Linked DNA regions of Homo sapiens. The protein of the gene in region 2 interacts with the protein of the main gene of each other region in a biochemical or structural test. Each region holds a gene or a part of one and is shown on either strand. Other genes may lie near its edges.

What was found.
Region 1: of the proteins of LMTK2 (region 2) and PPP1R2, one has a biochemical effect on the other in vitro, tested with the Homo sapiens proteins (one study listed by IntAct).

Annotation. Positions count from the first base shown.
Region 1 is NC_000003.12:195,540,310-195,548,120, reverse strand, and holds the start of PPP1R2 (protein phosphatase inhibitor 2), read left to right. Parts: upstream 1-4,795; 5' UTR 4,796-5,095; coding exon 5,096-5,217; intron 5,218-7,811. UniProt on the Homo sapiens protein: Inhibitor of protein-phosphatase 1.
Region 2 is NC_000007.14:98,186,854-98,193,872, forward strand, and holds part of LMTK2 (serine/threonine-protein kinase LMTK2 precursor), read left to right. Parts: intron 1-23; coding exon 24-145; intron 146-3,874; coding exon 3,875-4,024; intron 4,025-4,760; coding exon 4,761-7,019. UniProt on the Homo sapiens protein: Phosphorylates PPP1C, phosphorylase b and CFTR.

The sequences.
Region 1 (7,811 bases), on a different chromosome or scaffold from region 2:
TGCGTGGAGTCGGAGAAGGAGATGACCTTTGAACTGGGGTAATTTAAAAGCAAGAATAGGGGATGGTATTTCACATAGATTAGTAAAGGCATGAAAAAGGGACAGAATATAGGTTGCTCTGACACCCTGAGAAGGGCAGTGTGACTAGTGTGAAGAACATAGCAGAAAGCAAGTGGATGTAAAAAGAGAAGGAGACTAGAAGAACAGACAGGGCTGGATTGTGAAGGCCCAAGGGATTTGGACTTCATCCTAGACAATGAGCAACCACGGCAGACTGAGTTCCTTGAGCAAAAAAAAAAAAAGAGGGGCAAGTTCTTTTTTTTTTTTTTTTTTTTTGAGATGGAGTCTTGCTCTGTCACCAGGCTGGAGTGCAGCGGCGCAATCTCACTGCAACCACTGCCTCCCGGGTTCAAGCGATTCTCCTGCCTCAGCCTCCCAAATAGCTGGGACTACAGGCGCGCGCCACCATGCCCAGCTAATTTTTGTATTTTTAGTAGAGACGGGGTTTCACCATGTTGGCCAGGATGGTCTCCATCTCTTGACCTCGTGATCTGCCCACCTTGGCCTCCCAAAGTGCTGGGATCACAGGCGGGAGCCACCGCGCCTGGCCAAGAAGGGCAAGTTCTAATTGTTTCCCCAAGCGTAACACTGTGTGTGGCAAAGTGGAGTTGAATTTATAAACTAAGGATCATTGCATATCCCAATTTAAAAAAAAATATGAGAACAGTATGAAGATGAATGGGCAGTGAAGAAAGCGGAGTCCTCAGACCAATCTGGAGACAACAAATAAAATAATAAAATTACGCATTTGAGACGTTTCAAACAAGAATGAGTGCTAACGAGCATAAATACAATAGTAAAGTAAAAAAGTCTTCCAATGGTGACTTTTGACTATGTAGGCTTCAAAATATATTTAGGGTTTTCCATGAAGCATTTATAGCAACATCACATATGTTCTGAATCAAAGCCTATACTCCTTATCCCATTATGAGTTCATAGAATAACAAAATGCAAGATAATTTGGCAAAATTGACACAATGAAATTATAATACACAACATTGCTCCCTTGCTTCTTGCAATAATAAACCAAACCAATTAACACTTACAGAAAATTTACAGTCACAAAAGACTGAGTGATTTCTGGCAGGCACAAGGTAAATTCATAGCTTAGCCAAAAAACTAACTCATATTTCCTACTTACCATTCCAAGGTTTGTTACACTGCGTGTCCTGCCTTCTTCTTTCGTTTTTGCCTCACAGGTTCTGAAAGAAGTAATTGCCTAGAGTCTCTGAATTTAACCAGTTTTTAAAAGGATCAGGAAACATCTAGGGACTAATGAAATCTCTGTGTACCCTAGGGGGGCCTATGCTCTGTGACTCTTCTCAGAAAAGTATTTTGGCCACTTGGTAAGGTTAAGGAATCCTTTCAGTAGATGTCTTTGAAGAGAAGAGAAACAGTGGAGCATTCCATGGTTGCAAATCAAAGCCATTTTTTTTAAGCAGAAAAATGATTAATCTTTGTCCTTGGCTTTTTCTCTCTCTGAAACTTTCTGTTTTGTTTAAATGATCTTGCCCCTGCTACCATGAATTTCTACAATGTATTTAATATGACAAAATCTGTGATCTTCTCTTTCCGGGGAGGGATTACCTGAAAAGGAAAAGAACAATGTGCTATTCTTGGCAAGAAAAGAGTTGCTGCTGACTCAGTGGTCATGAAGTCACAACTTTTGGGAATTTTTCCAGATGTTAGGCGGGGGCACTACCCACTTCTCTACTCTGTGGACCTAGCTGATGACTCAGGCAGGCTGGGTGAGCCAACCATGGAAGCCACTGTTGCTTTGGAACTCTGTCCTTGGTGGGAAACCCAATGGTGGTGTCCATAGTCGTCTGTTCCAGTGAATGGAGAGCCAAATGACTCAGCCACGTGATGGGGTACAATAAAAGTGTCCCCTCTCCTCCTCCAAATATGTTGTGTTGGGTCAGGCAACCATGATAATGAAGTCTTCAAAAAGAGAGCAGAGATAAATGCCAGATTATCCTTAAATCATGTATATATCTTTAAATATATGATTTGCCTTGAGCTCAATAGCTACTTCCAGAAACTGAAACCAGAATGAAAGATTCTATCTACAATTCACCTCCTGGCAGCCAAACCCTCAACACACAGGAAATGTAACAGCAATACAGCTAAATTCAGTGCTCGGGCTGTTTGGTCCAGATAACTTCCTACAGGAGCAAACCTCAGCAGAGGCACAGAAGGAGAGCTCTGTTTAGAGGCATTTGAAAATCTTATTTGGGCCACACTGAGGAATAAAGTAGTTCAACTATTCTGAAAGATAAGGAAAAGCAGGCCATGTGTGGTGGCTCATGCCTATAATCCCAGCACTTTGGGAGGCTGAGGCGGGCAGATCACCTGAGGTCAGAAGTTTGAGACAAGCCTGGCCAACATGATGAAACCCCATCTCTACTAAAAATACAAAAATTAGCTGGGTGTGGTGGCAGGCACCTGTAGTCCCAGCTACTCGGGAGGCTGAGGCAGGAGAATCACTTGAACCCAGGAGGCAGAGGTTGCAGTGAGTGGAGATTGTGCCATTGCATTCCAGCCTGGGCGACAGAGCAAGACTTTGTCTCAAAAAAAAAAAAAAAAAAAGCAGTACTGGCCCTCACAATTTTACAAACTATTTTTTTTTAAGTGCTACCAAAGTCATCTTCATCTGCATTCATTTGTTGTGGGTTTGGGAGTGGAAGAACCAGTACAGGAGACAAAAGTTTAACTCTTGATGAGGGAAATATGTTTCCAAGGTTCTTCAGAGAACTCTTCATCACCTCCTGTTCCAATGTTTGTTAGTTAATTAACTAATAAAACACTTTATGTCATACGATCGTAGTCCCTTTCATTAGAGGGTCTGAAAGCAAGCTGTTGCTTAATCAAGGGCCCAGTCACAGTTGAGTTCAGGGATGCTGAACTCAGTGATGCTTCCCAGCCCAAGCAGGAACAAAGCAAATCTGCCCAATAATTTGGAACATACAGGGAAGTTTGTGTATTCCCTTGAAAACAGGATTGCCATCACTGACCTAGACTCCTGCTGACAGGGCAGGAGACGCAACACAGGTGTTGAACACTGGGGTGGAAAGAACTCAGGAAGGGAAGGGAGGTGGCCATCCTGCTTCCCCTCGCTGAGAACCCTCTCTCTCTGCTCCATGGGCTGGACAGGGCTGTCAGGGTGTAATGTTAGATCCACTGAGCAGTCCTGGCCTGGGAGGGAGAGACGGCACCAGTGGATATTTGACTGGGAACAAAGGTGGGGACAGTGCCAACAGTGACTGTGCAGGCCCCTGGCTGAGGCAAATCCCTGGGGAACACATTCCACTCTGTGACCAGCAACCCTGTTTCCCTTCTCCCCTTCCAGCTCACTTCCCCTCCATTATCTCCATCCACATCCATTCCCATACTGAGGCCCTGTTCTGTGCCAGGAACTCATCTAGGAGCTAGGGGCTCGGGGCCAGACGATAAAAACAATCGTTTTCAGAACCCTACAGTCATCCCTGAGGGGCAGAGTCCTAAGGACACAGAACAGGGTCATCCTCAAAAGGCACAGAGCCTGTGTTAAAGAAGATGAGACTGTGGTCCAGAGATGAGCCATGGGAGTGAAACTGCTGCTATAGGGGCTAGATAGGGGAAAACGCTTCCTCTCACCCCCCACAGCAGTGGACAGACATTGCTGGGAGCGAGGTGTCAGCTCAATCTAAGAACTCCCAGAGTCAGAGCTGTCCAAAAACAAAATGAGTTACACGGGGGTGTGGCGGGCTTCTAGCCCCTGGGGTTGTTGGAGAAACAGGCTGAATAGCCACCTTATGGGCCTGCTTGACAAGGTCCCTTCCAGGACCAGTGGTCTGTGAATCCGCAGGGGCTGGTCCACCGGAGGGGCCAGTTCTGGGTGGCTCAGTCTGCTGTGCTCTAACCTGTGGTGAGGACGATAAAAAGGCCTGATCAAGAAAGAGTCATGGAAAAGAGCCTGGTGATGAGCGAGCTGCGGACTGGACTTGGGAGAGGGAGGGAAGGGAGTGTACAGGGACCATAACAAATACCACACACGAGGTGGCTTTAAGCAATGGAAATGGGCTCTCCGTTCTGCAGGCTTGAAGTCCACATCAACCTGCGGCAGAGTTGGTTCCCTCTGTGGGGGGAACCTGTCGCGGCCTCTGCGGGCCCAGGAGGTCCTTGGCTGGGAGATGTGTCCCTGCCGCCCTCCCGTCTCCTGCGCTCTCTGCCTAGACGGGTTGTGCGACGGCGGGGGTCGCTGCCCGTCTGTCCGTCGGCTTCTCCAGCGGTAAAAGGAGGTGAGGCGATTCCAATGCAGACATTCTATGATTTCATAATAGGCCTCTAAGGACCACTCCAATGCTGGCAGTCCATGCTTTTATAATAGGCAGTTCGGCTGTTTACACGGGCGAAATGGAAAGAGGAGATACCCGTTTTCTTCAAGTCAGCTAACCTCTCTGCGGAGTGACGTCACCTCGAGTCTCAGTCTGCTGATCTAAAAAATAAAAATAACACTACGGCCTCACAAGGTGGTGGGACGAGGGTGCTCGAGAGACGCGCGGGTCCGGGAAGCAGCAAGCCCGGGCGCTCTCCCGCAGGTTCTCAGAGACAGCTCCCGCCTCCCAGCGCCGCGCGGGGGCGGGGCGAGCAGCCCGGGCGGGACGGAGGGGGCGGGGCGAGGAGGTCGGCTTTGTTCTCGCCCCGCCCTCTCCCCGCCTCCTCCCTAGATATCGCGAGAGGGCGGGTCCGCTTGGCTTCGGCGTCGCGTCGCTCCTGCGCTGGAGCTCTAGGCCGGCGTCTCTCCGCGAGCCGCGGGTCAAGTGCCAGTGGCTAAGGGTGCGCGAGTAGCCGCCACCCGTTCGGCGTTGGCTCTGGCGTCGGGGTCGTTGTGTCGTGACAACCGCTGCGGTAGCCGTTTCCGAGGCAGCAGTTGCGGCCGCTTTAGCCCTGAGCGGGATCTGCGGCTGCCTGCGAGTCTCTGCTGTGCCGACCCTTCTCTTCGCGGACCCCACGCCAAGCAGCGACCCTGAGCCGACAGCCGGAGCGCCCGGCAATGGCGGCCTCGACGGCCTCGCACCGGCCCATCAAGGGGATCTTGAAGAACAAGACCTCTACGACTTCCTCTATGGTGGCGTCGGCCGAACAGCCCCGCGGGAATGTCGACGAGGAGCTGAGGTGAGCGCTGGGAGGGACGGCCTGGGAGCCCCTCCTTCCCGCCGGGCCCGTTACCTACCCAGACCCCAGGGGCGGGCGGGCGGCGTGGATGCGGCTCGGGTGCCGCTCGAGTCTCTTCTCCTGCCCGGCTAGCCGCGGGTGGGAGCGATCTTTAAGAAGGCTGGGCGATGACGTTTATCATGCTTCCTTTTTTTTTTTTAAGCATTTGGGCATATATAATATTTTTAAACATCATCTTTGAACTTTCTGTAATCGGGAACATCAAAGAATGAAATTGAAGCTTCAGATCTTCGACTGTTAAGCTTTTACTATTTCTTAACCTCATCTCTGAGGTATCTAAAATTCTTCGATAATTACAGTGTATTTTCTTGCTTTGGGAACCCTTTAAGATCTAGTCTCAAGCTAATAGGCGATCCGTCAAAGAAGAGACCATTTCCCCCATTAGCATTGTGCCACACTGTATTTCTGCATCTGCAACCAGAGTTTTGGGTGCTTTCTAGTTTTTGTTCCTGTTCAGAGATAGATCTAAGCTCAAAACAGTTCAAAGAGGAGCAACTTGAAATGACCCAGTGGTAATTTAGTTGCTCTTGCATACGCTAAAGATACACATGTAAAAAGTTGTTGACCTGAGCATTGTATGTAATATTTATAATATAATTGGAAACGACCGGAAGTCCATTAGTAAGAGCTGGTGAAATATTAATTACGGTACGTTTGTATAATGGAACAATATACTAGCCTTTAAAAAAAGAAAGGTAGGCGTTTATGCACGGAGAAAATGTTGCAGTACAGTATCTGTAGTGGGTTAGAAGTGCACGGGGGCTTGGGCGTTGCAAGATACTAAAAATAGAAGGACTCTACTTTCTGAAAATAAGGCTTAAGAAAAGTTACCATTGAAATTGGTAGTCAGAAGCTAAAATGAGGATGTTTGTGAAATCTCAGAATATAGGAACCTAGGGCATTCCTGGATAAAGGATCTTATTTAGGACCATAAAAGGAACTACTGCTTGGTGGTGGTAAATTTTAGGGATTTGTGTTACCTTGAAGGAAATATTGAGTAGGTTCATAGGTTAGAATCGTGGCCTTTTGGGGCTGGAAAGGACCTTAGTTTTTGTCTAGCAACTCCCACGCTCATGGATGCTTGAATCTTACATTCTCTCACACACAATTTTCCAACTTCTTTGGGCTAAGCCACGTTAAATGGAGTGCTGGGGGAGTGTGATGTGTAGGTCATGGAATTAAGAAGACAGAATTTCACCAGAACATAACTGAAGCAGGAGAACCAAGTTAGTTAAAAGATAAATAACATCCAGGCGTGGTGGCTCACGCCTGTAATCTCAGCACTTGGAGAGGCCAAGGTGGGAGGATTGCTTGATCCCAGGAGTTTGAGACCAGCCTGGGCAACATAATGAGACCTCATCTCTTAAAAAAAAAAAAAAAAAAAAAAAGGAAAGAAAAGAAAAGGAATTAAAAGATAAGTAACGTAACTACAGAAGGCTCAAATGTAGCTTCAGGGTTTTCAGCAGCAGGAATGTGGTCCTTACTGGCATTTATGTTATTTAGCTGTTCTCCAGTGTGAGTTTCTTTTGGTCCATTTACCAAGTGAGTTACTCTTTATCTCTGCTTCTTTAGTTTCTGTTTATTCTTAACTTGGATCTGCTGTAATTTCCCGTGGGCCCAATCTATGGATTGGCCTCTTTCTTTCTGTAATTGGTTGGGATTTACATTCAGGTCTTTCTGCCTCAAAAGCCACTATACTAGACTGACTCAACTGCATAGGGCTGCCTCTTCTGTAGTATCTGTGGCAGGGTAGATTCACTTAAAAGGGACTGACCTGTCGAGTTAGAGTTACAGTCCTGTCTTTAAAGAGAACTATCAAACCCTAATTCATTGAAGTTCATGATGTTTGGTTCCAAGTGGTAAAAAGGATGGGTTTTTTAATGATCCTTGTTATGTGACTGTAAAGCAAATAAACTAATTCTACTAGTAATACAATATAGTCTTAGTCTGTTTTCTGTTGGTCATAACAGAATGTCTGAAATGATAATTTATAAGAAACTGAATTTATTTCTTACGGTTCTGGAGGCTTGGAAGTCCAGGGTCTTAAGGGTGCATCTGGTGAGAGCGTTTTTGCTGGTGGGGACTCTGTGGAGTTCCAAGGTGGTGCAGGGCATCACATGGCAAGGAAGCTGAGCGTGCCAGCTCAGGTCTCTCTTCCTCTTCTTATAAAGCCACCAGAACCACTCACTTGATAACCCATTAATCCGTGAATAGATTAATCCATTCATCAGAGCAGAGCCCTCATGACCCAGTCACCTTTTAAAAGCTGTGCCTCTCCACACTGCCACATTGGAGATCAAGTTTCAACGTGAGTTTCAGAGAGGACAAACGTTCAAACCATACCAAATATACATTATTATTTGTCACAAGTCATGCAAACTTTATGAGATCCTCTTTGAACAGAAACAATAAATATACAGTTGGCCCCCTCCACAAATTCAGCCAATACCAAATAGCCCTTTACACTTGGGAGCCATTTTACACACCAGATTCACCAACAAAAATGCAGGAAAGGACCCTAAATAGGCCACGAA
Region 2 (7,019 bases):
CTGTGTGCTTTCTAACAAAACAGGAGGATTATATTGAAACAGATGATAAAAAAGTTTTCCCTCTGCGATGGACTGCTCCAGAATTAGTAACCAGCTTTCAAGACAGACTGCTAACTGCAGATCAGACTAAGTATAGTAATATCTGGTACGTATTGGCTTACCGTTTTATTAGTCATTTCTTTGGCAAAGTCCTAACTTCTTCCTCTTTGAGTACTTCCTTAAAGGAAAGTAGTTGTATAAGATGTAGGAACAAAAGAGTATCTGATGGTGTGAAAAAGACAGTTTAAAAGACACAAATAGTAATTATCACAATTGTGGTGATGGAGTTAACGTTTTGAATACTGCCCCTGCTACCCATTTTCCTTTAGAAAAGCAGGAACCAAGTCTGTTTCATATTCTGTGCCTCCCACAGGGCCTGACATGTAATAGATATTTAATATGTATTTATTGAAGTGAAAGAAGAAACTGAAAGGGGTGTGGACTATCATGTTTATACTATGATTTATAGGAGTCAGTTTAATGGGAGCTAAAAAGATGCACCTAAAACTTTGACTAACAATTTCTGTCACAGCCTTCTTAATTTATAGCTATGTTTTATGTGCTGTTGTCCTGCTTTTTTTTTTCTCTCCTTGCTTTCTTTTGGATTGATTTCTTTAAAACAATTTTTTTGCTTTTATTATTTTTTTCATTGATGCATATAATTGGACATATTTATGGGGTACAGTGATATATATATATGTTTTTGTTGTTGTTGTTGTTGTTGTTGTTTTGAGATAGAGTCTCACTGTCGCCCAGGCTGGAGTACAGTGGTGTAGTCTCGGCTCACGGCTCACTGCAGTGTCCACCTCCCTGGTTCAAGTAATTCTTGTGCCTCAGCCTCCCGAGTAATTGGGATTACCAATATGTACTACCACACCATTTTTGTACTTTTAGTAGAGATGGAGTTTTGCCATGGCTGGTCTCGAACTCCTGAACTCAAGTGATCCGCCTGCCTCGTCCTCCCAAAGTACTGGGATTACAGGCGTGAGCCACCGCACCTGGCCCAGTGTAATATTTTGATACCTATATACAGTGTGTGATGATCAAATCAGGGTAACTAGTATCCCCTTCACTCCAGACATGTATCATTTTTTCTTTTTGTTTTTGGGAACATTCAAAAGCCGCTCTTAGAGCTGTTTGAAAATATACAAAAATTTGTTGTTAATTATAGTCACCCTTCAGTGCTTTAGAACACTAGATCTTATTCCTCCTTCCCAGCCGAAATTTTGTATTCGTTAGTCAGCTTCTCACTATTCCTCCTCTCCCTCCCCTTCCCTGCCTCAAGTAATCACTCTTCTACTCTCTACTTCTATGAGATCAACCTTTTTATCTTCCACGAGTGATGAGGTTTTCTTCCTTTTTCTTTCCCCCTTGTGTATCTGCTCTACCTAGTGTATCGTGAGTCTGATACTTCTGTGTTTTTTCATGTTGATGGTTATCCTCCTTTAGCTTCCAGATACAGGACTCCTGGACCATTTCTCTTAAGGCATGTCTCATAATGATGAATTCCTTCAGTTTTTGCTTATCTGGGAAAGACTTTATTTCTCCATTTTTTAAAAAAAGTTATTATTATATATATTTTTTTAGTAGAGACGAGGTCATGCTGTGTTGCCCAGGCTGGTCTTGAACTCCTGGCCCCAAGCAATCCTCATGCCTTAGTCTCCTAGAGTGCTGGGATTATAGTCATGAGCCATCGCGCCCAACCCTCCTTCATTTCCGAAGGATATCTTTGCAGGGCATAGTGTTCTTGGCTGCCAATTTCAGTACTTTGAGTATACCATCCTATTCTCTGCTTCCCTCCTATGTGACTTAATGCTTTTCTCTGGCTGTTTTTAGAATTTTTATCTTTGTCTTTGGCTTTTGACAATTTGACTATAATGTGCCTCTGAAATGACCTTTTGGGGTTGATTGTATTTTAAGGACCTTTGAGCTTCCTGGATCTGGATGTCTGTATCTCTCCCAAGACTTGGGAAGTTTTTAAGCTGTTCTTTCCTTAAATAGCCTTTCTCTGCCTTCTCCTAGCTCTTTTATTTCTGTAACTCCCATAATGTGTGTATTTGTTTGCACTGTAGTCTCCCATAAGCCCTGAAGCCTCCCTTCACTCCTTTTCATTCTTCTGTCTTTTTCCCTCTGACTGGGTGATTTCAAACAACCTTTCTTCAAGTTGAGAGGTTCTTCTGCTTGAGTCTGTTGTTGAAGTTCTGTATTTCTTTTTATTTCATTTATTGAATTCTTCAGCTGGGCTTACTGCCTGTGAGGACCCCAGGCGACCCCAGTGTGAGGACTGTAGTGTCCACGGTGAGCAGTGTGAGGATGTAGGGGTCCACAGTGAGATCCTCTTACTTGCCCTTACCTGGAAGAGAAAGTTGCTCCTGGTTCCTGGCTGCGCCTGCCAGGGATGGGGTGGTGGAGGCCAGGCGTTTCCTTCCGCTCTCGCTGTGGCTGTCCTGAATCTCCTGAGTACCTGTTACTCCTTTGATGGGCTCTGGTGCTCTCCTTTAGTGATTTTTGTCAAAATGTAGTTGCTTCTTTGTTGTTTGGGGCGTGTCGTGGAGGGTTAGCTGGACATCAGAATCACTGGGGAACTTTTTAAAACGTGAGTTTTCTAGGCCACACCTGGATCTACCAACTAAGCATCCTTTAGGGGTGGATCTGACCTAGCAGTGTGTGTGTTCACGGCTTCCCAGAGGACACAGATGAGAGTCACGTTCGGGAACATTGCAGTAAATAGACACAAATGCGGGATGGAGGCAGTGCGTGGTGGGGAGGAAATGCAGAGACCTCGTGGAGGAAATGAGAGGCAGCTCCTCTGACCCAGGAAGCCAGCAGAGGCTGTTTCCATGGGGACAGAGCACCGCAGTGTGAGAGAGGATTGGGCTGGGACTGAGAAGGGCGTTCCTGCTGTGGTGAGGCAGCCCTCAGGGTCTCTCCTGGCACACAGCTGCCAGCGTGATGGGGGATCCCTTCAGAATAGCAGCAAAACCCACGATACTGAGGAGTAACTCAAACCAAACTTGTGGGTCTCACAGAGAGGATATCGTCTTGCCCATGTAAAGATTCCTTTTAGATGGTTTCTGGTGTTTACTAATGTTGTTAATAGGTGTATTTTTCTACCAAAAAAAAAAAATCAGAATTCAGGGTATTTATCTTGTTTCCAGCAATTCTGCCAAATTTTTAGAACATTCTGATGGTCTTTCCAATAATTTATTGAGTACTTAAAAGTTGATAGTCATCTCATCCACATAATTACACCTATTATCTCTGTTTTGTACTTTTTTCATTGGCCAAAACTTCTAGGGTGGTATTCAGTAGCAAATAGGAGGCATGGTCTTCCTCATTTTAACAGAAATGCCTCTTTTTTTGCTATTGTGCTGTTGATTATTGGTTTCAGATTAAAGAACAATCTTGGCTGGTTGTGGTGGCTCACGCCTGTAATCTCAGCACTTTGGAAGGCCAAGGCAGGTGGATCACCTGAGGTCAGGACTTTGAGAGCAGCCTGGCCAACGTGGTGAAACCCTATCTCTACTAAAATTATAAAAATTGGCAGGGCATGATGGCTTGTGCCTGTAATCCCAGTTACTTGGGAGGCTGAGGCAGGAGAATCACTTGAACCCGGGAGGCAGAGGTTGCAGTGAGTGGAGATCACACCATTGCACTCCAGCCTGGGCGACAGTGAGACTCTGTCTTAAAACAACAACAACAACAACAAAGATCCTATTAATAATCTTTTCAATACACACCTTGTCCTTAAAATTACTGGCTATGTAACAAGTATGAGTGTTAAAAATTTGACATCTAAAGGGAGAGAGAAACAGCCATTTTCTTTTTCCAACAGGTCTCTGGGTGTGACACTTTGGGAGCTTTTTGACAATGCCGCACAGCCGTATTCAAACCTTTCCAACTTAGATGTCCTCAACCAAGTCATTAGAGAGAGAGACACAAAACTCCCGAAGCCCCAGCTGGAGCAGCCCTACTCTGATAGATGGTTGGTAGCCTCACATTCCGCCTGTTCTGTTTCGTCTTCACTGTGAGGTGTCCCCAAAACACAAAAAAATTCGTGGGCCAAATATTATGTTTCTTCATTTCCTCTTTCACCATGATGTCACCATGAGCTGAACTACTTAATGTGGTTGGCAGTGATGAAGGTGTAGAAATGTTTCGGGTGTTGAGTTGGCTTTAGGGTCCTTGTAAATTCTTTTCATATTGTTTATTTATTTATTTTTATTTAAAAAAAAATGTAGAGACAGGGTCTCAGTATGTTGCCCAGGCTGTTCTTGAACTCCTGGCTCAAGTGATCCTCCCACTTCAGCCTCCCATTGCCCCAGGATTACAAGTGTGAGCCAGGGTGCCTGGCCTCTTTTGATATTTTTAACTGATTCGGCCAGGCACAATGGCTCATCCCTGTAATCCCAGCACTTTGGGAGGCTGAGGTGGGCAGATCACGAGGTGAGGAGTTCAAGACCAGCCTGGCCAACATGGTGAAACCCCGTCTGTACTAAAAATACAAAAATTAGCTGGGCGCGGCAGCGGGCGCCTGTAATCCCAGCTGCTCGGGAGGCTGAGGCAAGAGAATTGCTTGAACCCAGGAGGCAGAGGTTGCAGTGAGCCGGGATCATGCCACTGCACTCCAGACTGGGTGACAGAGCAAGACTCCGTCTCGAACCAAAAAAAAAAAAAAAATTCGTGATGGTTCCACTGATTGCTTGTCGTGTGCTGCTCAGGTATGAAGTCTTACAGTTCTGTTGGCTGTCACCAGAAAAGAGACCCGCGGCTGAAGATGTGCACAGGCTGCTGACTTACCTGCGGCTGCAGAGCCAGCGGGACTCAGAGGTCGACTTTGAACAGCAGTGGAACGCTCTGAAGCCGAACACAAACAGCAGAGACTCCTCCAACAATGCTGCATTCCCAATTCTCGACCACTTTGCCAGGGACCGGCTGGGTCGTGAAATGGAGGAAGTCCTCACCGTGACCGAAACCAGCCAGGGCCTGAGCTTCGAGTATGTCTGGGAGGCCGCTAAGCACGACCACTTTGACGAGCGCAGCCGGGGCCACCTGGACGAAGGCTTGTCCTACACGAGCATCTTCTATCCGGTTGAAGTTTTTGAGAGTTCGCTTTCAGATCCTGGGCCCGGAAAGCAAGATGACAGCGGCCAGGATGTCCCCCTGAGGGTCCCTGGAGTGGTTCCTGTTTTTGATGCCCACAACCTTTCTGTTGGAAGCGACTATTATATCCAGTTAGAAGAAAAAAGTGGTAGTAACTTGGAGCTTGATTACCCACCAGCGCTGCTCACAACCGACATGGATAATCCAGAAAGGACTGGCCCTGAACTGTCCCAGCTCACGGCGCTCAGGAGCGTTGAACTTGAGGAGTCCAGTACAGATGAGGACTTCTTCCAAAGCAGTACAGACCCCAAAGACTCTAGCTTACCAGGGGACTTACACGTGACCAGTGGCCCCGAGAGCCCTTTCAACAATATATTTAATGATGTGGACAAATCGGAAGATTTGCCCAGTCACCAAAAAATATTCGACTTAATGGAATTAAACGGAGTTCAAGCCGACTTTAAACCTGCCACTTTAAGTTCCAGTTTGGATAACCCCAAAGAGTCAGTCATAACAGGCCACTTTGAGAAAGAAAAGCCCCGTAAGATTTTTGACAGTGAGCCTCTCTGCCTATCAGATAATCTTATGCACCAAGATAATTTTGATCCATTGAATGTTCAAGAATTGTCAGAAAACTTTTTATTTCTTCAAGAGAAAAACTTACTAAAAGGCTCATTGTCCAGCAAAGAACACATAAATGATCTTCAGACAGAACTTAAGAATGCTGGTTTTACTGAAGCTATGTTAGAAACGTCATGTAGAAACTCTTTAGATACTGAGCTTCAGTTTGCTGAAAATAAGCCAGGCTTGTCTTTGTTGCAGGAAAACGTAAGCACAAAGGGTGACGATACAGATGTCATGCTCACAGGTGACACTTTGAGCACCTCATTGCAGTCTTCCCCGGAAGTGCAGGTACCTCCTACCTCCTTCGAAACAGAAGAAACGCCCCGTCGGGTACCCCCAGACTCACTCCCAACACAGGGAGAAACCCAGCCCACGTGTTTAGATGTTATTGTCCCGGAGGACTGTCTCCACCAGGACATCAGTCCAGACGCTGTGACTGTCCCGGTTGAAATTCTCTCAACTGATGCCAGAACCCACAGCCTGGATAACAGGTCCCAGGACTCTCCTGGCGAGAGTGAGGAGACCCTGCGACTCACCGAAAGTGACTCTGTTCTTGCTGATGACATCCTTGCCAGCAGGGTGAGTGTAGGGAGTAGTCTCCCGGAACTGGGACAGGAATTGCACAATAAACCATTTTCGGAAGACCATCACAGTCATCGCCGGCTAGAGAAAAACTTAGAGGCTGTGGAGACTTTAAATCAGCTCAATTCTAAAGACGCAGCAAAAGAAGCAGGCTTGGTGTCTGCCCTCTCCTCGGACTCAACCAGTCAGGACAGCCTCCTGGAGGACAGCTTGTCAGCACCCTTCCCAGCCTCTGAGCCGTCCCTGGAAACCCCGGACTCTCTGGAGTCAGTGGATGTCCACGAAGCGCTACTGGACTCTTTAGGATCTCACACTCCCCAGAAACTAGTGCCCCCCGATAAGCCGGCAGACAGTGGCTACGAAACAGAGAACTTGGAGTCTCCCGAGTGGACCTTGCATCCCGCTCCCGAGGGCACCGCAGACTCAGAACCAGCCACCACGGGCGATGGCGGCCACAGCGGTCTGCCTCCCAACCCGGTCATTGTCATCTCAGATGCCGGCGATGGTCACAGAGGCACAGAAGTGACCCCTGAGACGTTCACAGCTGGCTCCCAGGGTTCATACCGAGACTCTGCGTACTTCTCAGACAATGACTCTGAGCCCGAGAAAAGGTCTGAGGAGGTCCCGGGAACCTCCCCATCCGCCTTGGTGTTGGTACAGGAGCAGCCCCT